Linked DNA regions of Homo sapiens. The protein of the gene in region 3 purifies or fractionates together with the protein of the main gene of each other region. This does not show direct contact. Each region holds a gene or a part of one and is shown on either strand. Other genes may lie near its edges. The genes, in order: DSG4, PSG9 and SMAD9.

Region 1 (10,438 bases), on a different chromosome or scaffold from region 3:
CCCCAATTACGCAGTGAGACACGAAGGTGGCAGTTAAATATGACTTTGGGACCAGAAAGTTCCAGTTGGTTCTTGTCTTTGCCATTCACCACCTGGGTAAATTGAGACTAGCTATTTGTCTTCTTCAATTTTGTTTCACTTTCTCTAAAAATGGAATTACTGGCTGGGTGCGGTGGCTCACACATGTAATCCCAGCACTGTGCGAAGCTGAGGTGGGCAGATCACTTGAGGTCAGGAGTTTGAGACCAGCCTGGCCAGCAATGGTGAAACCCCGTCTCTACTGAAAATACAAACATTAGCCGGGTGTGGTGGCGCATGCCTGTAATCCCAGCTACTCCGGAGGCTGATGCGTGAAATTGCTTGAACTTGGGAGGAGGAGTTGCAATGATCACACCACTGCACTCCAGCCTGAGTGACAGAGTGAGACTCTGTCTCAAAAAAAAAAAAAAAAAAAAAAAAAAAGCAATGACCCTATTTTCTTCCGAGAGTTGTGAGGATTAAATGAGATAATATATGTGAACCCTCTGGATACACCTTATAACAGAATAGTTGGTGTTTAGTAATTGCTTAATAAATGTTAGAATTATTATAAAAATAGAGAATCAATTTTTTTGTTAGAATTCCAATTGGGTAGCATTTTGCTTTGCTTTTTTCTCAGTGTTGAAGTCAAATATGTATATATATATACACACACACTTTTTTATTGCTTGCGTTTTCATATACACTTATCAATAAATACCAAGGAGAGGCTGTTATTGACAGAGAGACTTTCATTTTTCTGAGATCTTTCTCTTGTTAAACTGTAAATTCCTTGAGAACAGGGACCATATCTTATTTGCCTTCATGTCCTTAACACATAGCAATTCTCAATAAATCCTTATTTTTCTTCTGCCTCCCTGGTCCGCGTTCAAGTGATTTTCATGCCTCAGCCCTCCCAAGTAACTGGAATTACAGGTGACCGCCCCACACCCATCTTTCGCTAGAGACTTGGTTTCACCCCGTTGTCCAGGCTGGTCTCGAACTCCTGGACTCAAGTGACCCTCCCGCCTTGGCCTCCCAAAGTGCTGGGATTACAGGCACGAGCCACCTTAAATCCTTTGAATTGAGTCTTTGTAATTTCCTCAGACTAAGAGAAGGGTTATATAAAGCTTAGTCAAAAGTCCAGTTTCCTCAGGGTTAAGGGGTATCCCGAATGAAAATGGAGAAGGTGTAAGAGGACATTAGTAACCTCATTCCAGATGTATCTGGAATGAGAGGCTGACCACCAGCTGTTGAAAATGTCAAACATGGGAAAATTACGCTTATGTTCTCTAAAATAGTTCTTTTGGCTAGGTAGTAATACAAACATCAAGGTTTAAAATTTCATTTTAATTAGCCTTTCTCCATTACTTTGGTATTTTTAAGCACATTTTTTCTTACTCTTTTTAAGAGATTTGGAAAGTTATCATTCAGAAAAAAATAGATAGGGCTTTGTATATACAGCATCCAAATTACCTTGACAAATTTTTCATGAAATTGATATTTCAATAGCTTTTTTTTTTTTTTAGCAATTAAGTATATCTTTAAAAAAGTTGTTATCACAGAAGGCACATTACATAAGTCAGATAGTACATTGCCTGCATTGTTAATTTTTTTCATATTTATAATTGTATGCAGAAGTTACGAATGATGCAATCAAGTCCAGTGACTTCTGTTTGGATGATATCTATGCCATTAGTTTCAGGTAAATAGTATCATCAATACTATTCTCAAATTTTGTGAGTCTCTACTATCTTTTGGACACTGGACCAGGTGCTGGGGGTAGAAAGATATTTAGATCAGGTTCTTTATGCACAAAATTCTTCTATTATTTTAGTAGGTTGGGAGACAGAACAAAAGCAAAGAGCAGTTACATATTATGAGATAATATACAAAGTTAGTCACTAAGATGATAAGAACATAGGTAAGAATTGCATGTTATGTCTAGCTCTTGATTTTTAACCAGGATGCAAGGTTTAACAAATTCTGATCCCTGGAAGAAAAACTTGACTAAATATTCAGAATTTGATATGGTGGGAGGTGACCTCTTGTTCCTCTATTCCTCTTTGTATTGTATTTGGCAATGTCTCCTATACCCATTCCTTTTTTTTTTTTTTTCCATTTTTACTGCCATTGCCTTAGATCAGATGCTTAGTACCTCAGAACTTAATTAATATCATAATAATTTTTATAACTGTGGTCTTTTCAGAGTTGAACTCATGTTGTTAAGTTTCACTTTTGTTGCCGAGGCTGGAGTGCAATGGCACAATCTCAGCTCACTGCAACCTCCGCCTCCCGGGTTCAAGCGATTCTCCTGCCTCAGCCTCCCGAGTAGTTGGGATTACAGACATGTGTCACCACACCTGGCTAATTTTGTATTTTTAGTAGAGATGGGGTTTCTCCATGTTGGTCAGGCTGGTCTCAAACTCCCGACTTCAGGTGATCTGCCCGCCTTGGCCTCCCAAAGTGCTGGGATTACAGACGTGAGCCACTTTGCCAGGCCGGTGTTATTGTTATTTTAGAAAATATCCCAAAGCTTTCCTTGGTCTATAAGTAGGAATTGAAAAACTTTTGGTTAAGGGCCAGATAGTAAATGTTCTAGGTTTTAGGGGTCATATCATACAGAGTTTCTATCTCAAGTATTCATATCAGCAACTTGAGTGTGGAAACAGCCACAGAAAATACGTAAATGAATGTATGTGGTTGTATTCCAATAAAACTATTTATGAAACAGGGGACAGGTGAGGACCTCTGGATCATAGTTTGCTGACCTCTGGCCCAAAGCAATGTTTTCCAAACAGAAAGTCCATGATATACTCTTTGAGTCCTTGTGTTCACTTAAGAAATTATAAAATTGTGTGTATTCATTTGGATGACAATCTTATATATAAATATTTTTCATAATTTTGGTGGCCAGCTCTTAAGTTAATATACCATATGATTTCAGTGTGTATGGTTGTGCTTTGGTGGTAAAGTAGTAATACTAAAATTGCTCAGATACTTGAGAAAGAAAAGCGAAAGACCCAATGAATAAACGATATGTTTGCTTCCAGAAGGCTAAATGGCTTCCTAATATGCTATCTGAAAAAACTTCACAGTAACTTGATGATATGGTTTGGATGTCTGTCACCCACAAATCTCATCTTTAAATGTGATTCCCAAAGTTGGAGGTGGGGCCTGGTGAGGGGTGATCGGGCAGATCCCTCACGAATGGTTTACCACCATAGCCTTGGTGATAAATGAGTTTTTGCGAGATCTGGTTGTTTACAGGAGTCTAGGACCTCCCCCTTCTCTCTTCTGCTACTGCCCTTGTCATGTGATGCACTGGCTCCCCCTTTGCCTTCCACAATGATTGTAAGATTCCTGAGGCCCTCACTGGAAGGACATGTTGGCACTTTGCTTCCTGTATGGCCTGCAAAATGGTGATTCAACTGAACCTCTTTTCTTTATAAATTACCCAGTCTCAGCTATTACTTTATGGTAACACAAAAAGAGCCTTATGTGCTTGAATAGAGAAAAATAGTAACAGAACTGAATAATCACACTGTAAATTCCACAATCACACTGTGTAGTAAGCTAAAAATATGTGTGTACATATATGTCTTAATATATATTTTCCTGGCTATAAGTGTTGTTTATGTTGTTAGCAGCAATTTCCTTTGTTAAAAAATAACAATTTCCCTCATTACAGTAATGTTAATCTGAATCTTATTGGTTTGTGGTTTTATTCGTTTCTAATTATAAATTTTTCAGTTTTATCATTGTCTGTGAATTAAAAGCAAGTAATTAAAGAAAAATTAATCTATAGAAAAAAATCAAAGCCGGTATTTCAGTATGCAAGGTTCTCAGCAGATCGATTTCAGCTTCACTTCTCTGATCTGACTTCTGATTACTTCCCTACTTGATGCCCCACTACAGCCCCACGGGGTTGCTCACCATGCCCTGAACTTGCTTCATGTTTTCTCACTCTGTGTTTGTTTATTTTATTACCCACATTAGCAATCTTAGCTATAACATCTTGCTTAAGCCTTATTTCCTGCATGAAATCTTTTCAGACAAATCTAGCTCAGAAGGATCTCACCATTTCTTATCTCTTTCATTATTTCATATTCCACTCCCTTGGCAATTAATTATGTTTTATATCATGACATCTGTATTATTTATTGCACTGTGAACTCCCATATATCTTCTAATTTGGGGTTGCTTACCTTATCTTCACAACTAGATATTGGACACTGTCAGAACAAAACAGTCTTCATATTTTTCTTGGTAATAAGTTTTGTGTTGCTAGCTAGGAGACTCAGACTGACATAGCAGTTACTTAGGACCCTTGATATAAACAATATTCAAAGTTATGAAGTACTTTTTTTTAAAGGCAGATTCTGTCTCTAAGGTCATTTAAAACTTCTTTGGAATAAAATATTTTGGAAGAAAATATTGCAGATCCTTATACTGTACCTTGACAACTTTCAAAATGCCTTCATTGGTTTGTGGATCTGTTTGAATATCGAACCAATTCCCATCATTTCCAGAGAGAATTAAATATTGAGCCAACCAGTTATCAGTGCCTTCTTCATCAAGATCAATTGCTTGTAATCGTATCAGTTCCGAACTTAAACAATTCTCTTCAATACTGGCTGAGTACTAAAATGCAAGGATCAATTTTGTAGTCAATGAATTTTCAAAAGAAGAAACGTACTTAAAACACATTATTATTATTTAAAATACTAACAACAAACTATGTCGATGATTTTTGCACCATTATTAAATGCCCATAGTCCAATCAGGAGAATAAGAATAAAATGATTATAAGATAATAAAACTGACATTCATGTGCTGTATGTAAAATCAAGGTCAAATTAGCACTTTGTTCCTTTCTCTTTTATTTATTTATTTATTTTTGCTTATTGTTAATTTTCTTTATTTATTCTTTTCTTTTAGATAGAGGACCAGATTTTTTTCTGTAAAGGGCTGAATAGTAAATATATTAGATATTGTGGGCCAGAGAATTGGTGTTGCAACCCCTCACGTCTGCTGTTGCAGCACAAAGCCCCCATAGACAATATGTAAAGGCATGAGGACAGCTATGCTCTCCAATAACACGTTTTTTGTTTTGTTTTTTTGTTTTTTTTTTTAAACCGAAACAGACAGCAAGCCAGATTTGGCCCTGCTAGTGTGGATTTTATGCTTCTTTATGCTTAGAGATGAAAATGGAAGTTGAGACTGTCTGGGACTCTAGTAGAATTCATTCAGCAAATCATGAGGCATATACAAAAACATTAATGTTGCTATGTTATTCCCAGAGTTAGATCAACAGATTTCTGTGTTTCTGTGAATAGAGTATACAGAATAGATAGTTCGTTGCTTTCACAGAGAAGGCTTGTTTGGAGTAGTGAGTCAAAGACAAACATACAATTTGAAGGTATATTAGTATACATAAGAAATTCCAAAGTTTCTATAACAAAGTTGAGTATGTCCACACATAGGACAGAACCAGGCTCATGAGCCAGCATGATTGATTATTGACACTTATGCAAATTGATTATTGACACTTATGGAAAAAGGAAGATAAGAATACAAACTTACTGAAGTTTTCTCTAAGGTGGGGAAATTATCGTTGACGTCTAAAACCTTGATTCTACAGTCACACTCAGAAGACAGTCCATCTGCAGCTCCATCCCGATCTGAGCCTCTCACAACCAGGTTGTACATACTGTGTTGCTTAATCAAGATGAAAAAGAACGTAAGACTTAGGTTTTGTCTTGAATAGAATCCAATGCATTCAATGCCATTATTTCTCTACTCTTTTATTTACATATCCAATGAAATTTATATAATTGAGCTTTTAATTTTTATTAAAAATGGATTATTTTTCTTCCCTCCTTTATATTGGAGTAAGGGTACACATGGATCATTTTATCTTTGTCTTTTCAAAATTGAATTTTTTAGTTCTTGTTCATTCACAGAAGGCTTTACCTCTCTGTCCAAGAAACTGGACATGGTGCAGACTTCTCCAGTGTACCTATTCAGAATGAACATGGGTGCACCTGATGGCTCCTGAGAGACGATCTTGTAGGCAATTTTAGAATTCAGATGATTTTCTTCATCTGCATCTGTGGCACATAACTTTACTACCAATGTATCTAGAAATAGAAATGGAGGTGGAGAATGGTTGGGACTCTTAGAATAAATTCAGCAAATCATTAGGCATAAGAAGACAGAGTGGTTGGCCTTCTCCTGAATTCTCTCTGTTTGAGTTTTCCATGGGAATATAGTACCATAACTTTCAGCTCTACCAGTGATTAAAAAAAATGTGGTTTGCTTTATAAAACCCTTTACTGTTTTAAAAGTACTTGCACTCCTTAAATGATTAAATACTAAATTAGTGGCTAAACATAGTTCTCTTTAAAGTACGAAAAAGAAGTTCAATAGATTCTTTATCATATAGCTGAATAAACAGATTTTTATCTGTTTTATTTTTTGCCATGGTCTTGTGAAATCATTTAAAAATGCTTAATTAAGGAAAATTATAGTTTAATTAAATGCAACATTATAATTATGTATTGAACACCTATATTCTTAATTGCCACTTTTCCAGAAAGCAGATAATTACTCTTGGTTGCATTGGAAGATAGCATTTTACCAAACAGTCACAAATTTATAATTATTGAAAAGAAGACTTGTCCATAGCAATATAAGAAGTTCCTAATTACTCATAGGTAGAAAGAACAGGTATCTTAGGCAAATCCCCAAGGATGTCAATCTACAGGACAGACTTTTCAGAATTGTCAGGTCCCTGATGTTCTTTTGCTTCCTAGGCAGGGAGACTTGGTTGTGGGTTTCACCTTCTCTTCCTTCACCAGTGTTGTTTTGAGGTGTGTTGATGAGGAAGCAAAGATGGACTTCGGAGTCTCTCTTTGTGTTGGCTCTCCTAGGCAAAATCTCTTTGCCTCTCTATGGGAGGACTATCCTAGTTCAAAAAAAAATTTTGTGTTTATCTGCCTTTTTTCCTGAAATTTATTTTTCCTATTATTTCCCCCCAAATTTGTTTAGAGGTATATGGGCAGACATAGATTTGAAAGGGAAAGGGACAACAGGGGTTTGGGGAACAAACTGATATTCATGTGCTGTATGTAAAATCAAGGTCAGAAGGCAAAGGGAGAGGAGAGATAGGAAAGTAGCCATATAAGAAAAGCATAAGAGTAGGAAGGAAAGAAGTTCAGGAGAATTAATATAAAGGAAAGACAGAGGGTATTAGAACTGGAAATGGAATTAAGTGGAATGGAAAGAAATGAAAGAAAATGAGAGAATAGAATGTAGTTTGCTATGTAGTCTGTGAAGATCAATGATTACCCTTAGTGATTGATCTGATGGGTACAATTGCGTGTGCTTCCACCATCACGCTCTACCTGGTGTGGGTCAGCCAAACATTTTGAGTAAGAGACCAGAACAGAGCCTTCTTAAACATTCCTGGTTTATTCCTCAGTTTGCTCGCTTGGATTTAGTTCTTCATGAGCCCAGTAGCAATCTTTAAGCAAGGTGCTAAGCACCTGCTAAATCCCTGTAGGGACCTTCCGCAAGTAAGAAGATATTTTATTTTATCATTTTAGACATGATTTCTTTTTCTAGCTCAGTTATAAATTAAAATATGTGGGGTTTATTCAAAATACAAGTGTGGCTTTTTCTGTCCTTTACATTTCCTGTATGTCAGTCCTCTAAAGCTTTTGACCAAGAGAAGTAGATATGCTGTGACGTAGAGAAGGAATGTCATTCTACTTACTGGCATCACTATTTTCTTCAATGCTGGCTGTGTATACACTTTGCGAAAAGACTGGAGCGTTATCATTTATGTCCATAACTTTGACTCTAAGCTCAAGAGGCCTTTCTAAATCTTCACCCCGTGAATTCAGAGCCCGGCAATAGATCTGTGGAAAATTGGAAAAAAGCCATCTTTTTCCACCAAAGGAATTTTAGTAACATGCTTGAAAATATATCAGAAAATAGGCAAAGAAACAATTTTTTCCAGTGAATTCAGACTGTAGTACAGTCAAATAATTTAAATATGATCAGGACACTTGACTACATGTACATGCAACATACCAGAGAATCCTGAACTATAAACTTTTATTTTCACACTCTTTCCATTCCTTCAAGTCTTCTATTTGGGTTCAGTCTGCCATGTTTTATCAAAAGTAATCCATTATCTTAAGATAATATTTTTTGAAAAAGGGAAGAAAACTAATATGAACAAATCAAAACATATGGCTATGACTTACCAAGAAAAGTGGAGTTATTTCTCTGTCTACCACTGAAGTGATGTTAATTTCCCCAGTGCGAGGATTAATGGTGAATACCCCATATGGTGGTCGATCAATCCCTACTCCAGAAATCCGGTATGTTATCTTCTGGTTCGATTCGCAGTCTGATCGAATCTATAAGAAAAATAGCTAGGATTGTGATCCAGTTTAGAGCAGATAATGCTTAAGAGTGTAGTGGAATAAGAAGGGAGTGGGTTTCTTTACCAAATGGGCTTTGGATTGAAACCTGACACCATGACTTAGTCCTGTGTGACCCTGGAAAATTTACTTAACTTTGCCCAGATCAGCTTACAGTGGGGATAATATCACACAGATTTGTTGTGGGAATTACATGAGGTAATGTGTATAACATACACACTTGGTGCTAGGTTTGTTGTTAATAACACATTGTTCAATTCTCTGATTTTTTAGCATACGCAGAAATAGCTTCACAAAAGAAATTACAACATTTACTATTTTTTAAAAATAACTTGTGTCATATTAATAAGTATCCTACCTAAGCTGGAGTCTGAGATTTAGTCAAAATGGTAGATAAGTTGAGAATATCAGAAAACTATAATGGTTAGAGATATTTGTAATAATTTTATAAATGTAAACATACTGCATCACTTTTCTGCCAAATAGATTTTATGGCAAATATTCTGCCACACAGATTTTGCTTTAGTAGCTTTATTACCTATTGCTGATAAATTTAAACTGAAACAATTTTGAAATCTCACCTATATACTAACGATAAGAGCATTCAGTAAAATAGTAAGATTTTTTACCCACACATTCACAGTCAAATAAAGACTGCTGGAAATAGAACTTTGGTTAGCTTAACTCTAATCCAAAGGCCCTTTTTACATAGAAGAAAACTCAAGAACCTCCCAAAATGCAGAGAAAAAGAAAAGAATATGCAATATAAGTGGAATAACATAAAGCAATTACTGAGTTGAATGGAAATAATAATTTAAAAGCGTCCCTCCAATTTGAAAACATCTGAGAGAGAATACATCTGTTTTCTTGAGCTGAGGTTGTATCTGTAACACCACTGCTGATGCTTACTATGTTTTTAATATAAAGCTGGAAGGAGGGAATTCTGCAGATCACTTTACTGTTCAGGATCAAGATGTCCAGAAAGAGTGAATGAAGCTATTAATGTGGATCCCATCCTTCCTGGATCAATTTATTACACATTCTTTAACTCTCCTTCCTTTTCAGTAGGCATTATTTGTGAAAGTCTTATAAGACTCTCTTATTTTCTGGATGTAGAGATCTGGTGGGAACTTTTGATACTATCCTTACTTTCCTGGAGTTAATTCATCTAGTGCAGTAAACTTGGCTTGACTTTCTGGAGGGCCAGGCTTCAGACTGTCACTATGTGAATACGTTTCCTATGACATTGACAGGCAATAATGAGCAGTACACAAATGGATGAACAAAGCCCAGTTGTGCTGGAGATCCAGCCCTTTCTTCTAGAATCACTTGCCATTGACTGCCTGCCCCACGTCAGCCTCCCTGCACATGATATTCAAATCAGTGGCTCAGCAACTGGAGCAAATGACCACATTCTGTCTTCTTAAATAACTGTGGAGCAGTGAAGCCTGCAAATCTTGGAGATATTTGAAAGCTTCCCTGCTCTGCAAAAGCATTTGTCATCAGATTGCTTCATCACTTACTTTGGCAATGGGGTTCCTCTTCGAGTTGTCCTCTCCTTCTCGACAGGCTGCGGCAAACTTGATCCACTCCCGCTTTTGTCTTCTGACTGTTTGCCATTTTGTAGTGCCATTTTCAATGTCAAATTCCTTCACCTTAAGCAAAAATGGTTCAGGTGTCTTACAGTGTGAGAACAATTTTACTTAGAAAGGACATTTATTTAATATTGTAAGGTGCATTTAGAAGAAACAGTGATATTGAATTTGAAGAACAGAGAATGTTTTCACCAATTCACAACTCTGGATAGATAGATAGCTTGGTTACCCCTGGCTGCCACTTCTTTTGGAATCATCTTGGTTCCAATTATTTGATTCTAGTGAAACAAATTTAATTAGCTACTTGAGGAGCTCATGATGTGCCATACTGTATAAGTTGTGCAGTTTTCCTTTTCTCAATCTATCTTC
Region 2 (10,187 bases), on a different chromosome or scaffold from region 3:
CCAGAATCCCAGTAACATTTTTTGCAGAATTAGAAAACTCTGTCCTAAATCTGACCTGACAGGATCTTATTAATGACTGCCACAACACAAACACTGAGAAAAAGATGCAACCAGAAAAGGTGGAAAGTTCTGATGACAAAGAAAATAGCAATCAGCCTTTCTCACATCCCAAAGCTTTAAAAAATATATGAGTGCAGCATGGCCAGTATGGAATTGACCAAAAACTAATCATCAAGCTAGAAAAGTGGTGAGAGAAAAAAAAAGGGCAAGAATATCTTTGGCTTATCACCTCCCACTTTTGCCTACTAATCTGATGCTGAAAAGAAATGCTCACTGAAGCATTTTAGATTTTGAATCTTTCAGATTTGGGATGCTAAACCAGTAAGTATATGACAAATATTTCAGAATAAAAAAATGTCAGAAATCCAAAACACTTTTTGTCCTAAGACTTATGCATAAGAAATACTCAATCTGTGTGAACTATAGGCATCAAGCTCTACAGCAGATCTCTAGAACCTCCCCACCTTGCATAACTGAAACTGCACACCCATGAACAATTTCTGATTCTCCCCACTCCCAGCTCCTGGCAACCAGCAGTCTCTTCTCATATTCACTCTGGAATCCACTTACATGAGGTCCCTAGAGTAGTCGAACCCAGGGGATCAGAGAGTAGAATGTCCAATGAAAGAAAATATTTGCAAAACTTCTCTCCAAGTTTGTCTCATATCCATCAAACACACATGGTCCATGAGGACCAGATTTCCAGCAGTTCATTCCCACACTTTCCACCAGTCAGTTCTGCATTTGCAAATGTCCACATGTATTTCTGGAAAGATCCACATGGTCCTCCTCTGCCCTCTGCAGAAGGAGAGGAAACTTAAAGAACCCAGGACAGAGAACATGGTTCTGCTCCAAAGCCACCAGCTCTTGCCTGTCGCCTTCACTCTTTCTAGATCATTCCTTGCACTCTGCTCTATGTTTAGAGGTCACTGGTTCAAGTAAGTCATCATGAAACACCTGCAAAAAACTGCCCCACCTTGAGCCTCCACTGCCTGATGACTGAACTGACCTCCAGGCTTGACTCTGGTCTCCTCTGTGTTATTTCTGCTGAAACATCCAGTCCCAGGCCAGGCTGCTAAGTATCTTCAGGGTCTCAGGACAATGGGAAGTCCCATTATTACTCATCTCTAGAACATCCTTAGAAATGGAAGCTGCAGAGAAATCACATATAGGGGGGCAAAGTAGGATGGAATTTGGAAGGGGCCCAGCAGTTGCACATTCCAGGTAAGGAACCCAAGGTGAGCCAGCCAGTCAACTGATTAGGGAGGGACTGGGAGGGGTACCAGGGGCTGTGACTCCCACTGATGTGTCTGTCCATGACCCAACACTGCTGCTCAATTGACACTTGAGAAAGTCTGTGCTTCCCTAAGACAGAGCAGGCGGCCTCACAGTCTTTGAGCCCTTAGATCATCATGCATCTGTCTTGTGACACACGCACCAGCTATTGGCTTTCAAGGACTCGGGTGGGCTGAGAGGTGGGAGATGCCAACTCTGATTGAAGTATGCCTGTGGAGGAATCAAAGGTGCCACACAGGACAATCTTCTCTCTGTTATCCACACAGCGAAGCTGCCCATCCCCTACATCACCATCAACAACTTAAACCCCAGGGAGAATAAGGATGTCTTAGCCTTCACCTGTGAACCTAAGAGTGAGAACTACACCTACATTTGGTGGCTAAACGGTCAGAGCCTCCCCGTCAGTCCCGGGGTAAAGCGACCCATTGAAAACAGGATACTCATTCTACCCAGTGTCACGAGAAATGAAACAGGACCCTATCAATGTGAAATACGGGACCGATATGGTGGCCTCCGCAGTAACCCAGTCATCCTAAATGTCCTCTGTGAGTATCTTTTGTTCCTCTGTGGGCCAGGACACCAGCTTAAGTCCAAACGACCAGATGCCAGGCCTCTCAGTCTCTCTCCGGTCCAAGTATAGACACCTTTACTTCTAGACATCCGAGGTGGCCATGACTCCCTGCCCTGGGAAAACCTGGGTAGGCACAGCCTTAACCAAGAATATAAGGGGAGTGGATGCTCTTGTCATGGGAGACTTGGGGCCCACAGCTTGTGATGGGAGAAACAGGTGAATACCTCAGGCTTCAGCTCAGTGAACATAGAGGGACTTTGGCTGGGACTTGAGGGTGTGTCTTGGCTCAGAGGGTCACTGTGTCCCTTTAAGAGACCAGGAACATCCCCTTCCCTCGAATGACATCACGTGTGGCTTTATTCTCTTTCCTCCAGATGGTCCAGACCTCCCCAGAATTTACCCTTCATTCACCTATTACCGTTCAGGAGAAAACCTCGACTTGTCCTGCTTCACGGAATCTAACCCACCGGCAGAGTATTTTTGGACAATTAATGGGAAGTTTCAGCAATCAGGACAAAAGCTCTTTATCCCCCAAATTACTAGAAATCATAGCGGGCTCTATGCTTGCTCTGTTCATAACTCAGCCACTGGCAAGGAAATCTCCAAATCCATGACAGTCAAAGTCTCTGGTAAGTGGATCCCAGCATCCTTGGCAGTAGGGTTTTATGTGGAGTCTATCTGGCTTTCAGAGAAGAGTCAGGAAAACATTTTTATTCCCAGCCTGTGTCCCATGGGCACAAGCAAATCCCAAATTCTCCTCCTGAACCCTCCCAATTTGTCTCTACAGACTCTCTTCTCCTTGTTTTTCTGTTTTCTTATGGCTGACCTTGTGTCTGGCCTGAAAAAGGTAGGGAGGGGGCTTTATCAGCCCTGAGCCCTATGTGGTAGAAGAGGCTTCAGAGAGGGACAAGAAGGAGAGTCCTCAAGATCAAGTTGCTTCTCGCTGTCACCGACACATCCCCTTCTGCCACGTCTTTTTTTTCTTGTACCTATTCCATGAGCTACAAGGGACAGCTGAGGCTTTGAAACAAGCTCACACTTTTCCCCCAGATGAGAGGAGGAAGCCCCTTGGGTGAGGGAGGAGCAGCTCAGACTCTGCTTCCTGCTCTGCTCCGGGCTCCTCTGGTGACTGGCCCTGCCTCACTCAACCTGGGGTGGGACTAGCGTGTGTGTAGAAAGGGCCCTGGTGGCCTGTCCTGAATTTGGCTAAATTGAGCTGCCAGTTGAAGCCAAGCCTCCCCCGGGCCAGGCTGCAGGGAAATAAGAAGAGAGGGAGCCTCAGGGCAGACTCCTGAGCTGCGTCCTGGCTCTGAAGTCACCAGCTGTATGAGGCTTTGGGCACAGCACGTGGGACACAGCACGGAGGACAGTGACTGATGCAGAGCTGGAGGAATAGGGAGATTCACCGTTGGGGTTATTCATGGCAGGAAAGGGGCAGTGCCAAAAAGTGTGTAATTATAGAGAGGGTAAGACTACCAGACACTTTATATATATCTAATATAAGACTTACCATTAACTATTTCTATGTGTGCAATTTAGTGTTGTGTAACCATCACACTATCCATTTCCAGAACTTTTTCCTCTTACCATATTAAACCTCTGTACCCAATAAACAGTAACTCTCACTCCTTCTTCCCCTAACCCTTAGCACCCATCATTCTACTTTGTCTCTATGTAACTGGCTATTCTAACTATCTTTTATAAATGGAATTACATAATAATTATCCTTTTGTGTCTGGTTTATTTCAGTTAGCATAATATCTTCAAGGTTCATCCATTTTGCATGATGTATTGGAATTTTATTCCTTGTTAAGGTTGAATAACATTTCAATGTATAGATACACCTCATTTGCCTACCCACTTATCTTTCAATGGACTTTTCAGTTGTTTCCATTTTTTCGCTAGTGTGAGTAATGCTTCTCTGAACATCAGTGTACAAATATTTGTTCAAATTTCTTTCAATTCTATGGGGAGTATGTCCAGAAGTGGAATTGCTGGATCAAATGGTAATTTATTGTTTAATTTTTTGAGAAACAGCCACACCACTTTTTACAGTGGCTATAACATTTCCCATTCCCATCAGCAATGCACTAGAGCTCCAATTTTTCCATCTACTTGCAAACACCTGTTGTTTTGTGTTGTTGTCATTGTTGTTGTTTATCAAAGCCATCCTAAATTGTGTGAGGTGGTGTAGCATTGTGGGTTTGATTTGCATATCTCCAGGTATTCGTGATGCTGAGGAACTTTGCATGGGCTTATTGGATATTTGTATATCTCCCTTGGATAAAACTCTATTTTAATCCTTTGTTCATTTTTTAATTGGGTTTTTGGATGTTTGTTGTTGTTGACTTGTAGCTTTTCATGTATTCTGGAAATGAATTTCTTATCACACATATAATTTGCAAATATTTTTATCATTTCGTGGGTTGCCTTTTTACTTTCTTGATAATGTTCTTCGACATATAAAAGCTTTGATTTTTGTGAAGTCCGATTTATCCATTTTATTTGTTGCCTATGCTTTTGTTGTTACAACCAAGAAATCATTGGGAAATCCAGTATCATGAAGCTTTTCTTCTAAGAGTTGTGTAGTTTTTCTCTTACATTTAGATCTTTGATCTATTGTGGGTTAATTTTTGTACATGGTGTTAGGTAAAGGTTCCAATCTTCTTGCCCTTGGATATCCAGCTTTCCCAATATCCTTTGGTGAGAACACTGTCCCTTCCCCATTGTAAATGCTGAAATCAGGAAGTGTGAGTCCTCCAGCTTCATTCTTCCTCTTCAAAGCTGTGTGTCTATTTAGAGTCATGAGATACAATATAAATTTTAGGACAGATTTTTCTTTTTCTGCAAAAATGCCACTGAGAATCTGATAGGAATTGTATTGAATCTGCAGTCACTTTGGGTAGCACTGTTCTCCTAACAATATTGAGTCTTCCAATTCATGAAAACAAAATGTCTTTCAATTTATTGATGTCATCTTTCATTTCTTTCAGCAATATTTTGTAGATTTCAGGTATAATCATTTCACCTCTTTGATTAAACTTATTCCTAAATATTTTATTCTTTTTGATGTTAATATAAATTGAAATTTTTTTCTTAATTTCCCTTCAGATTGTTCATGGTTAGTGTATTGAAATACAACAGATGTTTGAATGTTGATTTTGTATTGTGCAACATTACTGAATTTATTTATTAATTCTAATTAGGTTTGTTCAATCTTTAGGATTTTCTACATATAAGTTCAAGTTATCTATAAACAGAAATAATTTTACTCCTTCCTTCCAATTTGAATGTCTTTTTTTCAATTCTTGCCTAATTTTTCTGACTAGACCTTTCAATACTACGTTGAATAAAAGTGTCAAAAGCAGGCATCCTTGTCTTGTTACTGCTCATACAGGGAAAGCTTTCAGTCTTTCTCCATTGAGTATGATGCTAGCATTGGGTTTTTCACATATTGCCTTTATGTTGAGGTGGTTTCCTTCCATTCTTAGGATGTTTTCATTATGAAAAAATATTGAATTCATCAAATGCTTTTATTGATTCAATCTTATTACTGATTATAGTTATACTCATATTTTTGTGTGGTTCTAGGAGTTGGTCCATTTCATCTAGGTTATCCAATTTATTGGCATACAATTATTTATAGTACTTTCATCATCATTATTTTATTAGAATTGGTAGTAATCGCTTCATTTTTCTTTCTTTCTTTCTTTTTTTTTTTTTTTGGAAGAGAGAGAGACAGGCTCTCACTCTGTAGGCCAGCCCAGGATGGAATACAGTGGTGTGATTACGGCTCACTGCAGCCTTAACCTCCTGGGCTCAAGCAATTCTCCTTCTTCAGCCTCCCAAGATGCTAGGACTACAGGTGCATGTCACCATGCCCAGCTAATTTTTTTTTATTTTTTTGTAGAGACAGCATCTCCCCAGGTTACCTATGCTGGTCCAAACACCTGGTCTCAAGAAATCCTTCTGCTGTGACCTCCCAAAGTGCTAGGATTAAAACATGACCCACCATGCTCAGAGTCCATTTTCATTTCTGATTTGAGTAATTTTAAACTTTTCTCTTTTTTTCTTAGTCAATCTAGTTAATGGTTGTCAATTTTGTTGATTTTATTTTGAAGAATCAACTTTTGGTTTCATTAATTTCCTCTATTCTGTTTCCATTCTCCATTTTATGTATATCCACTCTAATCTTTATTATTTCCCTCATTCACTGTGCTTGGGTTTAGTTTGTTCTTCTTTCATATCCTGAAGTATTAAAGTAGGTTGTTGACCTGAGATCTTTCTTCTTTTTTAATGTAAGAGTTTACAGTTATAAATTTCTTGCACAAGACTCAACTTCTCTGAACCTCTGATTCCTTACCTGAAAATTGCAATGAGAGTACTTTCTTCTTACCATTGTTTTAAAGGTTTAATGCAGTCAATGAAACAATATGCCACACACAGCGGAACCAATGTCAGCTGCTATATTACTACCATCATCATTAGCCTTGAGGTCAAATAGTCCTAGAATCAAATCTCAGATCCACCTGTCACTAGCCATATGACACCAGGAAAGTTTTTACACCATGCTAAGCTTCTGTCTTTTCATCGGCAAAATGGAAATAATGTCTATGTGACAGGGTTATTGTGTGGCTTAAATGAGATACAGGTAAAGTATTGAGCACAGGGCCTGGCACATAGGAAGTGCACCTCAACAGTACCTACCTTTTTCCATATATATGGAAAAAGAGGTAACACATAAAACACTAGGACATGGTTACTGACTACTTGTGGGAGAGAAAAAAAAAGCTAAGGGCAAAGAATCAAGTCTGGTATGTTAGTTTTTACCAACTGAGATGCATCCAAGATGGGATTAGACATACAAGGTAATTTATCAGGGAAGACACCTGTGAGGGAATGTGGAGCAGGCATGAAGGTAGTATGGGAGAACCCACAGAACACTATGCAGAGCTGATTCCTGTGAAAAAGAAAGAGAAAGAAGTTTTAGGTACCAATGCAGTTCTAAGAGTATTTGCAAGGCTGATGGGGAATCCTCCAACCAGCCACCCATTAGAGTTAAATAGAGCCTCAGAGAACTAGGCTTGCTTTCACACCCTTCCTGGGAGCCTGTAGGAAAGAAGCTTTCTGTGTAAAGGAGGTAGTGAATTTGAAATGCACTGACCTGGGCCTTCTGTCAATCAGGTCCCTGCCATGGAGACCTGACAGAGTCTCAGTCATGACTGCAACAACTGAGACACTGAGAAAAAGAACAGGCTGATACCTTCATGAAATTCAAGACAAAGAAGAAAAAAACTCAATGTTATTGGACTAAATAATCAAAAGGATAATGTTTTCATAATTTTTTATTGGAAAATGTGCTGATTCTTTGAATGTTTTATTCTCCAGATTTATGAACTTTTTTTCTTCAGCAATTGGTAAAGTATACTTTTGTAAACAAAAATTGAAATATTTGCTTTTGCTGTCTATCTGAATGCCCCAGAATTGTGAAACTATTCATGAGTATTCATAGGTTTATGGTAATAAAGTTATTTGCACATGTTCCGTAAGAATCTGCTCTCTTTATAACAGGACACATTTGAAAACATTGGTTATATTACCAAGGCTTTGACTGGGATGTTATATTTGAGAATATACATAGAATAAACCCATAGGGAATGCAGGCAAAGTCTGAAGTGGGCCTTGGTTTGGCTTCCTAGTCTCAAGAGGTTTTTGGAAGTTTCATCTGAGATTCTTATTAAAAACTTCTAGCAAAGAGAAGTTTAAAAAGAGCCTCTATGGTCCATTGCTACTCTTGCCGCACTTAGGTAAAAAATCTGGGCAAGTTCGGTGAGACTCAACCTATTTTGCAAGCAAATTCATCTTATTGGAATTATCTTTGGTAAAAATAGAGACTCCGATAGAGAGAAAAACTAGCTGAAAAGAAAAACTGTAGTACACCTGTTACCAGATTGAACCACTGTTCATTATCTTTGAGTATTTATAATCCACTGGTAGACTGGACTGGACCCTGAATTCTTTTAGTTCTTCCAATTCAGTTTTCTCCAATGAAATCATTAAGAACAAGAGCGGCTCTGTTCCTGAAGCCATATAAGGTGGAGGTGGACAACTCAATGTAAATTTCATGGGAAAACCCTCGTGTTTGAGGTGGGGGCCACTAAGAGCTCACCAAATGTTCAACACCATAACTTAGAGACACTCAAACTGCAAACCACGACAAGCTGATGACTTTACACTGTGGACAGCTTTTCTCAAGATGTCAGAACAAGACTATCAGTCATGATGAGACTCTTACCTCTCTTAATTTGTCTTTGCTTTTGCCTGTCTCCTTTGCTTCCCAGAATAATGCTGTACTTAGGATTTCACCAGAAATAGCCTCTGAGAGTAAGTTAACAGTGTCAGATATATCATGTCAACCACACTTCGTTTTTTTTTTTTTAAGATGGAGTTTCGCTCTTGTTGCCCATGCTGGAGTGCAATGGCACAATCTTGGCTCACAGCAACCTCCACCTCCTGGGTTCAAGTGATTCTCCTGCTTCAGCCTCCCCAGTAGCTGGGATTACAGGCATGCACCACCATGCCCAGCTAATTTTGTATTTTCAGTAGAGACAGGATTTCTCCATGTTGGTCAGGCTGTTCTCGAACTCCTGACCTCAGATGATCTGCATGCCTCAGCCTCCCAAAGTGCTGGGATTACAGGCATGAGCCACCGCACCCAGCCCACACATTTTTACATAACAAGACATCCTTTAGTCCACACAAAGGCTGACGTTAGCTGCATCTGTAACACAACTTTTTCCTCAAATGTATGGAGTTTTTTTTAGGCTTCCACTTCTATACTTGCCTATTCTCACTCCCTGTTTTAATTTAACATAGACATGCAATGCTAGATAATAGAATTGTTCTCTACCAGCTGGACAGCGGGGAGTCTGTGCAGTTTCTGACACTTCTTGTTGCACATGGATAAATACATCGGGTATTATAGAGACTCAGTTGTAAAAATCAATAAATGTGCTGCCTGGTTAAAATGACTAGACTCTTCTGGCTTCTTCTTTGATCTATCCTATTGTAGTTGGTTTGCATCTTGCCTAAGGTGCATATTCCAAACTCTTGATATTTTCCTCCTGATAGTCATACTGGTATTCTCCCTCATGTGGTGGAATCTACAGATGTTTTTATTTCTGTGCAAATATTTGTGTGCAGCCATTCTTCAAATATCAAACGGTTTCTCTTGTGCTGGAATTACAAAAACTCAAAGAAATGTGTGATTTATGGGCTGGGTGCAGTGGCTCACATCTGTAATCCCAGCACTTTGGGAGGCCAAGGCAGGCAGATCACAAGGTCAGGAGTTCAAGATCAGCCTGATCAATATGGTGAAACCCTGTCTCTACTAAAAATACAAAAATTAGCCAGGCATGGTGGCGTGCACCTGCAGTCCTGTAGGGAGACCCCCAGAAACTACTGCTACAGAATAAAAGATGAAATGCTCTTGATTATTGTAAATACAAAATTGCACGCAGGATTGTGTAAACACAATGACAGGTTGGGCTGCGAGAATGAGCCTACAGCACGGGATGTGCTTCTGTTACATGGATGGGAGATAGAATTATGAGTTTAGAACATAGATTACAAATGCAACCTGATTGGAACACTTCTGATTTTTGTAAAACTCTGTTCCAATATAAAGAGTCTGGTCACAATCGGGAATCAGTAATATGCCATTTACAAGGAAGTGAAGATAATTTAAGTTTAGACATAAGCAAGCTGAAAGAACAGATTTTTGAAGCTTCTCAAGCACACTTAACTGCTTTACCCAGTGCTGAAGTTTTAGACAGTATCTCTGAGGGGTTATCTAATCTCAACCCCATTCAATAGGTAAAATCTTTGGGAGGATCCACTATCGTTAATTTTGTTCTGTGTATAATTTGTGCTGTTGGTTTATTGTTCATGTGTAAAATTGGAAAAAATGTTCTTCAATCCAATTGTGATCAGTGCCAAGCTATGATTGCTATGGTTCATTTAAATCAGAGAAAAGCAGAGATGTAGGGAGAACCCCTGAACTATTGCTACGGAATGAAAGATGAAATGCTCCTGATTATTGTAAATACAAAGTTGCATGCAGGATTGTGTAAAGACAAATGCCAGGTTGGACTGCCAGAATGAGCCAACAGCACGTGATGTGCTTCCCCCTGCAGAGAGCCTATGAACGGACATGCAGTCAGGGAGGTTTCACATTACCAAGATTCCTATCCCAGAAAAG
Region 3 (10,438 bases):
TAGCATGAGCAGCAACATTCTCAGGATGCTTTTCTTTTTTTTTTTTTTTTTTTTTTTTGAGATGGACTCTCACTCAGTCGCCCAGTCTGGAGTGCAGTAGTGGCGTGATCTTCGCTCACTGCAGCCTCCGCCTCCCAAGTAGCTGGGATTACAAGCGTGTGTCCCCATGTCCACTTAATTTTTGTATTTTTTAGTAGAGACAGGGTTTCACCATGTTGGCCAGGCCAGACTTGAGCTCCTGATCTCAAGTGATTCACCTACCTTGACCTCCTAAAGTGCTGGGATTGCAGGTGTGAGCACCCAGCCTCAAGATGCTCTTTTGAACTTTAATTCCAAGAATATTAGATAAAGTGATGTAGGCTATATTTTGCTTATGAGTTTTTATATTACTGTATCTGAAAATGTAGAAATTTCACTTCACAAATCAAAATAGACATTATTTATATGATTTATATTAGTGGATGACAAATTTAATTGAAATAGATCTCTGAGGTATTTGTTAAGAGAAACAGATTTATAAGTATTGGTAAATTTTTTAAGTGTCTTTTATTGTTTCCTCTGAGGTAGGTTTAATATGTGCACTTAAGTTACATTTTCATGATATTAACTGTGTCCAGTTTTAAATTTTAAAATTTGTGGGCTGGGTGCAGTGGCTCATGCCTGTAATCCCAGCACTTTGGGAGGCCGAGGCGGGTGGATTACTTGAGGTTGGGAGTTTGAGACTAGCCTGGCCTGGCCAACATGGTGAAACCCCGTCTCTACTAAAAAACAAAAATTAGCCAGCTGTGTTGGCGGGCACCTGTAATCCTAGCTACTCAGGAGGCTGAGACAGGAGAATCACCTGAGCCCGGGAGGCAGAGGTTGCAGTGAGCTGAAATCGTGCCACTGCACTCCAGCCTAGGCGACAGAGCGAGACTCCGTCTCAAAAAAAAAAAAATAAAATTTGTGTATGTACAATGAAGGATTACTTGATTTTTTTGTGTGATATATTCACTTCATTTCTAATATTATAAAACCTTATTTTTGGAACAAATAAACAGGAATGATGGGAGGAATAGTATATGAGACCTTACTGACTGGTTCTTGGGAGTGATTGTTAACATGGGTTGCAATCCACTTTTATTTTTTTATTTTTATTTATTTATTTTTTTGAGATGACATCTTGCTCTGTCACCCAGGCTGGAGTTCAGTGGCGCTACCTTGGCTCACTGCAACCTCTGCCTCCCAGGTTCAAGCAATTCTCCTGCCTGAGCCTCCCGAGTAGCTGGGATTACAGGTGCCCACCACCATGCCTGGTTAATTTTTGTATTTTTAGTAGAGAAGGGGTTTCACTGTGTTGGCCAGGCTAGTCTTGAACTCCCGACCTCAAATGATCTGCCCACGTCGGGCTTCCAAAGTGCTGGGATTACAGGCGTGAGCCACCGCACCCAGCTGCGATCCACTTTTAAATGGATTTGTGGAAAAAGCACAGATTATCATTAAACTAAGCGGCATTTAGGTCACACATCTCATTCATCTGATCAGTGATCTGACAACCTGATGGGAGAGTCACATCTCCTAGGGTTTCAGGAATCAGTGGGAGAGGCACGCTATGAAAGGGCATGTGAAGGAAGGCTGTGTTTTTGTGTCTGCAGGTGTGCACTTGTACTACGTCGGGGGAGAGGTGTATGCCGAGTGCGTGAGTGACAGCAGCATCTTTGTGCAGAGCCGGAACTGCAACTATCAACACGGCTTCCACCCAGCTACCGTCTGCAAGATCCCCAGCGGCTGCAGCCTCAAGGTCTTCAACAACCAGCTCTTCGCTCAGCTCCTGGCCCAGTCAGTTCACCACGGCTTTGAAGTCGTGTATGAACTGACCAAGATGTGTACTATCCGGATGAGTTTTGTTAAGGTAAGGAGTGCTTGCTATCACGTTATAAAATGTTCAGTGAAAAACAAAACAAAAAAGCACCCTGACTGATGTGGCAGGCAGTTGTGCGGTCAATTCTGATAGACAAAACCAATTTATTATTATTATTATTTTTTGAGACGGAGTTTCACTCTGTCACACAGGCTGGAGTGCAGTGGCATGATCTTGGCTCACTGCAACCTCTGCCTCCCGGGTTCAAGCGATTTTCCTACCTCAGCCTCCCGGGTAGCTGGGACTACAGGCACGCACCACCACGCTTGGCTGATTTCTGTATTTTTAGTAGAGACAGGGTTTCACCATATTGGCCAGAGTGGTCTTGAACTCCTGACCTTGTGATCCTCCCATCTTGGCCTCCCAAAGTGCTGGGATTACAGGCGTGAGCCACCGCGCCCAGCCCAAAACCAATTTTTTTGAATTCTATTGTTTTTAGGAGGAGTTCCTCTTTGAGTATAAACTGTCTTGTTTAGCAATTATATGAAAATTGTTACACATTACTTTTGAGGAAAAACAAGGTGGCTATTTGATTGTTTTTAATGCAGATGATAAAGTAACAACAGTAATTTTACAGGACTAGTGCAACAGAGATTTTTTCCATCCTTCCAATTGCCAAGCACTGTTATCACTCAGTGAATGTTGGTGAATTTATCTGAATTCAGTAAGATACTCTCCTTACTCTTAGAAAGCATACAGGCACATGGAGGAGATAATATTTATGAATAAGCTACAAAAATAGGCAGGGTTGGTTCTAATACAAGATAATAAACTAAGTAGTGTTATAAAGGTATAAACAATTTGGAATAGAAACGGGTGTGATTAATTCAGAGAGCAGTATATGTTCTGTTGATGAATATTTGTTGAATTTCTCATATCGAATCTTATTAAGGTTGCTATGAAGGCTGGAGAACCAAGGAAGTTTCTTAGTGGGAAGGAAAGACAACTGGGTTTGTATATGGAAGTGAAAGCCTTCAGTTTCATCACCTGCTATTTTGTCTGTTGCAAAGTACTCGCAAATGAGTCTAGTATTTCAAAATATGGGCTTATCAAAGTATCGGGGTATGTGTGACAGTTTTCTTACTGCCATGATTCCATCCAGGGAATCAGCATGGCTTGTTCCAGGCATTTTTTTCAAAGTAAATTTTATTAGCACTTTAAAATTACCATGACAAATAATTTTTCTATACTCAAATTATGTTTTTATTATCACTTTAGTAATTATTTAAAAAGTAAGAACAATATAGTTTCCAATTTTAAAAAACAGCTGCTTGAAATTATTTCTCTTTCATGGTGACAAAGCAGTTTCATTCAAATTTAGTGTTTTGAAAGCATATATTATAAAGTTATATTAACAAATAACTTCGAAATCTTTTCAAATGTTCTGTTGCTTTAGAAACGGCAGAGGGCATCATTTGAATCATACAGTTTTTTTTTTTTCCGGGTCTGTGTTTTTAAAATTAGGATGAAATGCCAATATCTCATAGGTAATTATTTCACTCTGATTAAATATAAGCTTATATAGAAATCTGATTTTCCTAATAACTAGATACATTTCTCAGATAGGCAGCATTTACATTCATAAAGCTACACAATTGACACAGAAGACAAACTGTTCCTAATACTGCAGGAACTTTTAAAATAAATACATAGTAAATATAACTATAGATCATTTTTTTTTAACATTTGAGATGAGCAGCTGTAGCTACCACTGGGCTGATGGATCAGATCTCTTTAAGGTTTCTTTCAGCTCTGATTTTTACTGATTCTAGGACTTAGTCAGTCAACAAATGTTTATTGAGCACCTGCCATGTGCAGGCCAGGCACGTGGGACATGCCAATGTTTACTCACAGATCTCTGACCTCAGGGAACCAATATTCTAGGAAGGAGAGATGGATAATAAACAACAGCCAAAACACAGAAGAAGGATGGAAAGAGAAAGTCTGGGGGCAGGGTGAAGGGAATTGGAGCACGGGGGCAGTGGAGTCATCTGCACATGAGGGTGGGCCTCATTGAAAAGGTGACAGGTCAGCAGAGACTGGAAGGAGACATGGAGCTAGGCCCAGGGACCCCTGGAGGAAGAGCAGAAGAAGAGGGAAGAGCAAGGCAACAGCATACACCTGGAAACTCTGAAGAGCAGGCAGGCCAGTGTGGCTGGGGCCTAATGAGCAGGGGAAGTGAGATGAGAGCAGCCGCAGGGAACCATAGCAAGGCCTCCTGAACCTCTGCTACGAGTTCAGCGGTGACTGTAAGGAGGTGGCGAGCTTTTGCAGGGATCAGAGCAGAGCATTTTCATGATCTAACTTCTATTCTTAAAGGATCGCCCTGCCTGCTGTGTGGAGGATAGATATTATACAGGCAAGGTTGCAAGTAGGGAAACCACTTAGGAGGCTATAGTAATAGTCAGGTGAGAGTCGCCCCCACCTGGAGGGATCCAGTACAGCTGTGAGAAGTGGAAGGATTCTGAATTGTGAAGGCGGATCAGGCGTGGGAGAAAAAGAGGAAGATGAAGTTAGTTGCCTTCAATCAAGATGGAGAAGACGCAGGTGTAATTGAGATGTCCGTTGCATTCAAGTGGAGTTGCTGAGTAGCCAGTTCGATATAAGAGTCTGGATTCGGGGAGAGAGGTTTGGGCTTGAAATACAAATTTGGGAATTGTCTGCAAAGGGACCGTATTTAACTCCCTAAGTGTGGATGAGAACACCAAAGGTTTGAGTTTAAACTGAGAAGAGCCGGGCGTGGTGGCTCATGCCTGTAATCCCAGCACTTTGGGAGGCTAAGGTGGGTGGATTGCTTGAGGTCAGGAGTTCAAGACTAGCCTGGCCAACATGGCAAAACCCCATCTCTACTAAAAATACAAAAATTAGCCAGGCGTGGTGGCGCGTGCCTGTAATCTCAGCACTTGGGAGGCTTAGGCAGGAGAATCGCTTGAACCTCGGAGGCAGAGGTTGCAGTGAGCTGAGATCGCACCATTGCACTCCAGCCTGGGTGACAGAGCCAGACTCCATCTCAAAAAAATTAAAATAAATAAATAAGAAAGGGGGCTCTAGGACTGAGCCCTGGGACACTTCAACATTTAAAGATGGGACAGAAGGGACAGAATCAGCAAAGAAAACTGAGAAAGACCAACCAGTGAGGTAGTAATAAGACCAAGAAGTGTGGTGCTTTGGAAGCCGAGAAAAGACAGTGCATTGATGAGAGGATGTGATGAACTAAATCAAATGCTGCCCACATAACACAAAGGCTGAGAGCTGATCATTCATTTTAACAATATGAAGGCCTTTTTTGATCTTGACAAGAAAAGTTTTGTTGGCGGCTGGGGTGAGATGATGATCAGAATGGATTTAAGAGAGAATGGAAGGAGACAAATTGAGATGGCTAGTATGGATGACTCTTCTGAGGGTTTTTGCCAGAAATGGGATAAAAACATAGGGCAGTAGCTGGTGGGGGGTGGAGAAGTATCTTGAAGGTGGAAGACATTTCAGTGTGTTCATATGTTGACGGGAATGATATAGTAGACGCAAAAGATTGCAGGAGAGAAGGGGAAGATTTGCTGGAATGATGTCTCTGGGAAGGCAGGTCTGAGAGTGCATTAATGGGTGGACCAGCTTATTTGGAAACACAAATAATTAATCTGTGGTAAGAGGTAGAAAGGCCAAGTATGTGGATGCAGGTCCTGTGGAAACTTATTTCTGATGTATTCATTTTTCTCATTAAAATACAAAATAAATATCAGTTGCAGGTATGGACAGGGAAAAAGGGGTTGCAGGTTTTAGTGGGGAGGAGCGATCACCTAGGAGGGGGACATGAGAGAAGGGACTGGGGGGTGGGTTGTGACTGCCGGGGACATCACAGGTCCACTTGAGGTTCTCAGTCATGAAAGTAAAATGTGATCAGGCAGCATGGTTGTGTTGAAATCCAAGTTTTAAAAAACTCTACAGAGAATCACTGCTCCCAGTCACAGAACTGATTTACTTGGCTGTGATCTCCCTTCATTTTTAAATATCCTTTCATTGATATATAACATATAGAGAAAAATATGCAAATTAAAAAAAAAAATTTTAACTGTCTCTCCTTTGAATGGTGATAAAAGGGAAATTGCCAGTTGAACTAGAGAGAGAGAGAGAGAGAGAATAAGCAAGCTTTGATAATGAGCCCTGAAAAACCAAGAGCGCCTTCCAGTTCTGTCTTTACCACTTTCAGGTCCAGTCACTGGTCTGCAGTAACCATTTTGTGCAAGACACTGTCCTGGGCATGAAGGGGTGAACAAAAGGTCAAGTTTCTTCCTTTGTGGAAGGGAAAATGATTTTTCAGTGCTTCCCGTGTGACTGGAGTGCCAGAACCTCTCTAGATCCGAGTATTCAGTTGTGAACCCTGAGGGAATGCACTGATTTGGATTCATCTGAAGGCATCTGGTTGGTGTGAGAGTTGACCTGTGTTTACAGGAAGGTAGAGGCCATGTTCTCTCCCTCTCAGGTCTCAGGAGCTACGCTGGGGTGTGGGCTCTGTGCCCCGCTGAGCTCTGCCTGGGGCTCTGGAGGCTGAGTGTAAGTGTGGCACCATCACTCAGCTCCTTTCTTGTTTTTCAGGGTTGGGGTGCTGAGTATCATCGCCAGGATGTCACCAGCACCCCCTGCTGGATTGAGATTCATCTTCATGGGCCACTGCAGTGGCTGGACAAAGTTCTGACTCAGATGGGCTCTCCACATAACCCCATTTCTTCAGTGTCTTAACAGTCATGTCTTAAGCTGCATTTCCATAGGATAGAGGCTATTGCAGGGAGTGGCTTGTATCATTTCAGATTTGCAACTGAAGTTTCTAAAAACATGTGTAAATACATAGAATGTATACTGTTCTTATTTTTTTTAATCACCGTTTGTTTTGTGCTTTCTAGTTAACCTGATGCCAGTACAGTGCAATTGGAAAAGCAGGACTTTGGTGCCTGTGCTATAAGCAGCAGATTTTGTGGGAGGAAACACTTGAGAGGCGATATTGTCAACAGTATTTGAAGGGTGTTAGCAGAATAAAAGACAGCTTTAGTCAGCCGTGTCATTATAAAGCATGTTGTGTGGCCTCACAGAAACATTGAAACTGTTTATACAGCAAAAGTCAGGTATTAGCAGCACTAAAGCAAATATCACTCAGATGAAACAAAGCAGTGAAACCCCTACAGTTTAAATGATGTCACTTTTAGTGCTGTTGGCAAGAAAAAAAAAACAACAAACTTGTACAATGAATTAATGAGATAGGCCATAGAAACTTTATTTCTAAGGTTGACATACCTATAGCTGGGCTCCTGTGCTCATATTCAGTGGTACATTTTAAACAAACTGTGATCGGAAAAGAAAAAAAACTGTGAAGCCAAAAGTCATGTTCCCTCAGTCTACCACTGTAAAAACAGAGTCTAATATGGGAAAATAAATATGAAAATAGCATGAAATGCTGTTTCCCAGATTGCAAGATAAGACCAGAACTTGGTCCAAGAGCCAGCCACCCAGGGAGACTCCTGCTTTCCACAGAGGAGACCAGGTTCCTGTCGTGCTGGTTGTTCGTGTCAGGCAGTCCTGCAAACTTTGAGTCTGCGCAGCGTGCCAGAATAGCTTGTGTTTCAGTCCTGTGTCAAGAAGCAGGTGAAACCAAAGGTTGGAGAAAAGCATCACACGTCGACTTACACTTTCTCATTTCCCACGTTCCAGTCTCCTGGGAAGGGCACTCTTTCGCCACGTTTTCCTGCCTCTTGGCAAATATTAACTCTTTGCAGATCACTAAAGCAACAGTAAAGACTTTGAGAAAATCTAGACACATTATTGGATCAATGAGTTATTTAACCTAGTGTCTAGTGATTATCTAACCTGGAAATAAATTCCCAAGGAAAGTGATAATAATTTCATAATCATCTGCAATTTCTGGGGAACAGTGGTACTGAATAATAAGACATCTTTTAAAAATATACACAATATTAAAAACCTGTTCTTATTTTACTTTAGATGAGGGAGGAAAATCCCCCAAATTTCTAGGTACTTTCATATATATACTTGCCATGCACTAAACACTGCATTGCTTGGAAAAATATTTCACACCCTCTTTAAAAATGTACAATTTAAGATGGCAGTTATGCTTGTAACAGACAGCACTTCAGTAATCCAAGAAGTTTCTTCATTTATACATTTTATCTCAACTCTTTCTAGCATTAGTGCACATGGTAGTTTTTCTAATTAAATTGTATTCAAGGTAGAAATGATCATGTGAGAAAGATATATGATTGAGCTACTACTGTCACCTCTTACAGTTACTAGTGTTAGCTAATAGAAACTTTCATATATACACATAGAAAAGAATTATTACATTTTACATTGAAAAATGTAATATATGGCCCATGTAGTGTATAGAAAAATCTGTAGTTTATTGGTTCATCAACTATGTATTGTGCACCTACCTATGGGTGTCAGGTACAATGTTAGGTACTGTAGAATCAAATGTAAATAAGAGACAGTCCCAGCCCTCAGGGAGCCGAGAACCTAATAGTGAATCTGTTTGTACAGACATCTTCATGTTTCAGAACTTTTAAAACAAAACAAAATAATGTAATCTATCATCTTTTGCTTGAAAGAATGTGATTGATTTCTTATCTCTGTTTTGAAATTATTTCCTTACTCTTCTGCAAAGTCAGGTAATGGATTCCTTGTATAAATGCTACTTTTCTTCCATGTCTCAAAGTTGTTTTTTTTCCTCCCCTTTCTTCCCTGTTTTCCAATAATTCTCCATGTCCCCTTTTCTTAGAAAAGGCATTAATATGGTGAATCTTGTATGGGAACCATTCCATGGGAGAACTTCAACACAGTTTTTGCTCCAGAGATCAAACATAGCTTTCGTGATCTCTCTACCAGCTATCTAACTTATCCTCTGGTAATCTTTTTTTTTTTTTTTTTTTTTTTGAGATGGAGTCTCGCTGTGTCACCAGGCCAGAGTGCAGTGGCGTGATCTTGGCTCACTGCAACCTCTGCCTCCCGGGTTCGAGTGATTCTCCTGCCTCAGCCTCCCAAGTAGTTGGGACTACAGGCTACCACGCCCAGCTAATTTTTATATTTTTAGTAGAGACGGGGTTTCACCATGGTAGCCAGAATGGTCTCTATCTCTTGACCTTGTGATCCGCCCGCCTCAGCCTCCCAAAGTGCTGGGATTACAGGCGTGAGCCACTGCGCCCGGCTTCCTCTGGTAATCTTACACCTTTACAGAATTAATCTAAACTGGTGGCTCATAAATGACATTAAAAACAAAAAAAAAATCTGGATGCAGTGGCTCATTCCTATAGTCCCAGCACTTTGGGAGGCCAAGGCGGGAGGATCATCTGAGCCCAGGAGTTTGGGGCTGTAGTGAACTATGATCATACAACTTCATTCTAGCCTGGGTGACAAAGTGACACCCTGTCTCTAAACAAAAATCAAGAAACAAAAAACTTGTATTTCCCTGCAGCTTTGGGAAGCCAGAACACAATATTGCAGTGAATCTGAATTTTCTGTGACAAATAAATTATTAAATTGGCACATATGATCATCACCAGTCATGTCTCATCAAAAGCCTTTATTATGATGCTTGTACATTTTGAAGAATTTAGAATTAATGAGAAGTTAACCCTTTAGTCATTGTAACACAATCATATTTTAATCAGCTTTTTCTTTTGCTACCAAGAGTTTCAAAAAATAAATGCAGTATTTGATTTCAGGCTGCTAAATGGGCTCATTTAGCATTCATTCCTTGATGTAGACATTAAAAAAAAAACTGAATAGCATTCTTTCCAGGATAACTAATAAAGCAGACATGCTAAGCCTATAAATACATCAGCACTGCAGCACACGTTTAAGGTTGCCACGGACAAGGATCACACAATAGAGAACACTGTAGTAACATTTCGGTCTGCTCACAAGACCCAGAACATTGATCAGTTTTTGTTGTTGGTTTATTATTTTTCTGTTAAAAAATTGTGAAAAGTTTGTTTTAGCTAGATGATATTTTAATAGCTGCGAGTGCTTTGGAACTATAAAGATGTCACTACTTAACACATATACCTTATGTTTTGTTTTGTTTTGTTTTACACTCAGTATAAATCAGGAGAAGTTAGCCAACCATCTAGCATTTAGAATCCTCTTTTTTATTGTCTTCTAAGGATATGGATGTTCCCATAACAGCAACAAAACAGCAACAAAAACATTTCATAAATATCACTTGATAGACTGTAAGCACCTGCTTAACTTTGTGTCCCAAATATTTAGTGTGTATATATATATATATATATACACACACACACACATATATATTCAACAAATAAAGCAAAATATAACATGCATTTCACATTTTGTCTTTCCCTGTTACGATTTTAATAGCAGAACTGTATGACAAGTTTAGGTGATCCTAGCATATGTTAAATTCAAATTAATGTAAAACAGATTAACAACAACAAAGAAACTGTCTATTTGAGTGAAGTCATGCTTTCTATTATAATAACTTGGCTTCGGTTATCCATCAAATGCACACTTATA

The links.
Region 1: the proteins of SMAD9 (region 3) and DSG4 purify together in Homo sapiens (affinity purification with mass spectrometry; 3 studies listed by BioGRID and IntAct, with this or other methods). This does not show direct contact.
Region 2: the proteins of SMAD9 (region 3) and PSG9 purify together in Homo sapiens (affinity purification with mass spectrometry; 3 studies listed by BioGRID and IntAct, with this or other methods). This does not show direct contact.

What each region holds. Positions count from the first base shown.
Region 1 is NC_000018.10:31,386,379-31,396,816, reverse strand, and holds part of DSG4 (desmoglein-4 isoform 2 preproprotein), read right to left. Parts: intron 10,130-10,438; coding exon 9,998-10,129; intron 8,451-9,997; coding exon 8,295-8,450; intron 7,944-8,294; coding exon 7,799-7,943; intron 6,162-7,798; coding exon 5,995-6,161; intron 5,740-5,994; coding exon 5,605-5,739; intron 4,663-5,604; coding exon 4,477-4,662; intron 1-4,476.
Region 2 is NC_000019.10:43,250,571-43,260,757, reverse strand, and holds the end of PSG9 (pregnancy-specific beta-1-glycoprotein 9 isoform 1 precursor), read left to right. Parts: intron 1-1,622; coding exon 1,623-1,901; intron 1,902-2,301; coding exon 2,302-2,556; coding exon of another isoform or gene 2,557-2,801; exon of another isoform or gene 2,802-3,648; intron 3,649-5,837; coding exon of another isoform or gene 5,838-5,905; exon of another isoform or gene 5,906-7,074; intron 7,075-7,111; coding exon 7,112-7,149; 3' UTR 7,150-7,476; downstream 7,477-10,187. UniProt on the Homo sapiens protein: Binds to the small latent transforming growth factor-beta complex, consisting of the N-terminal TGFB1 latency-associated peptide (LAP) and the mature form of TGFB1, thereby leading to the activation of TGFB1.
Region 3 is NC_000013.11:36,844,872-36,855,309, reverse strand, and holds part of SMAD9 (mothers against decapentaplegic homolog 9), read left to right. Parts: intron 1-1,634; coding exon 1,635-1,891; intron 1,892-2,792; coding exon of another isoform or gene 2,793-2,972; exon of another isoform or gene 2,973-6,490; coding exon 6,491-6,634; 3' UTR 6,635-10,438. UniProt on the Homo sapiens protein: Transcriptional modulator activated by BMP (bone morphogenetic proteins) type 1 receptor kinase. SMAD9 is a receptor-regulated SMAD (R-SMAD).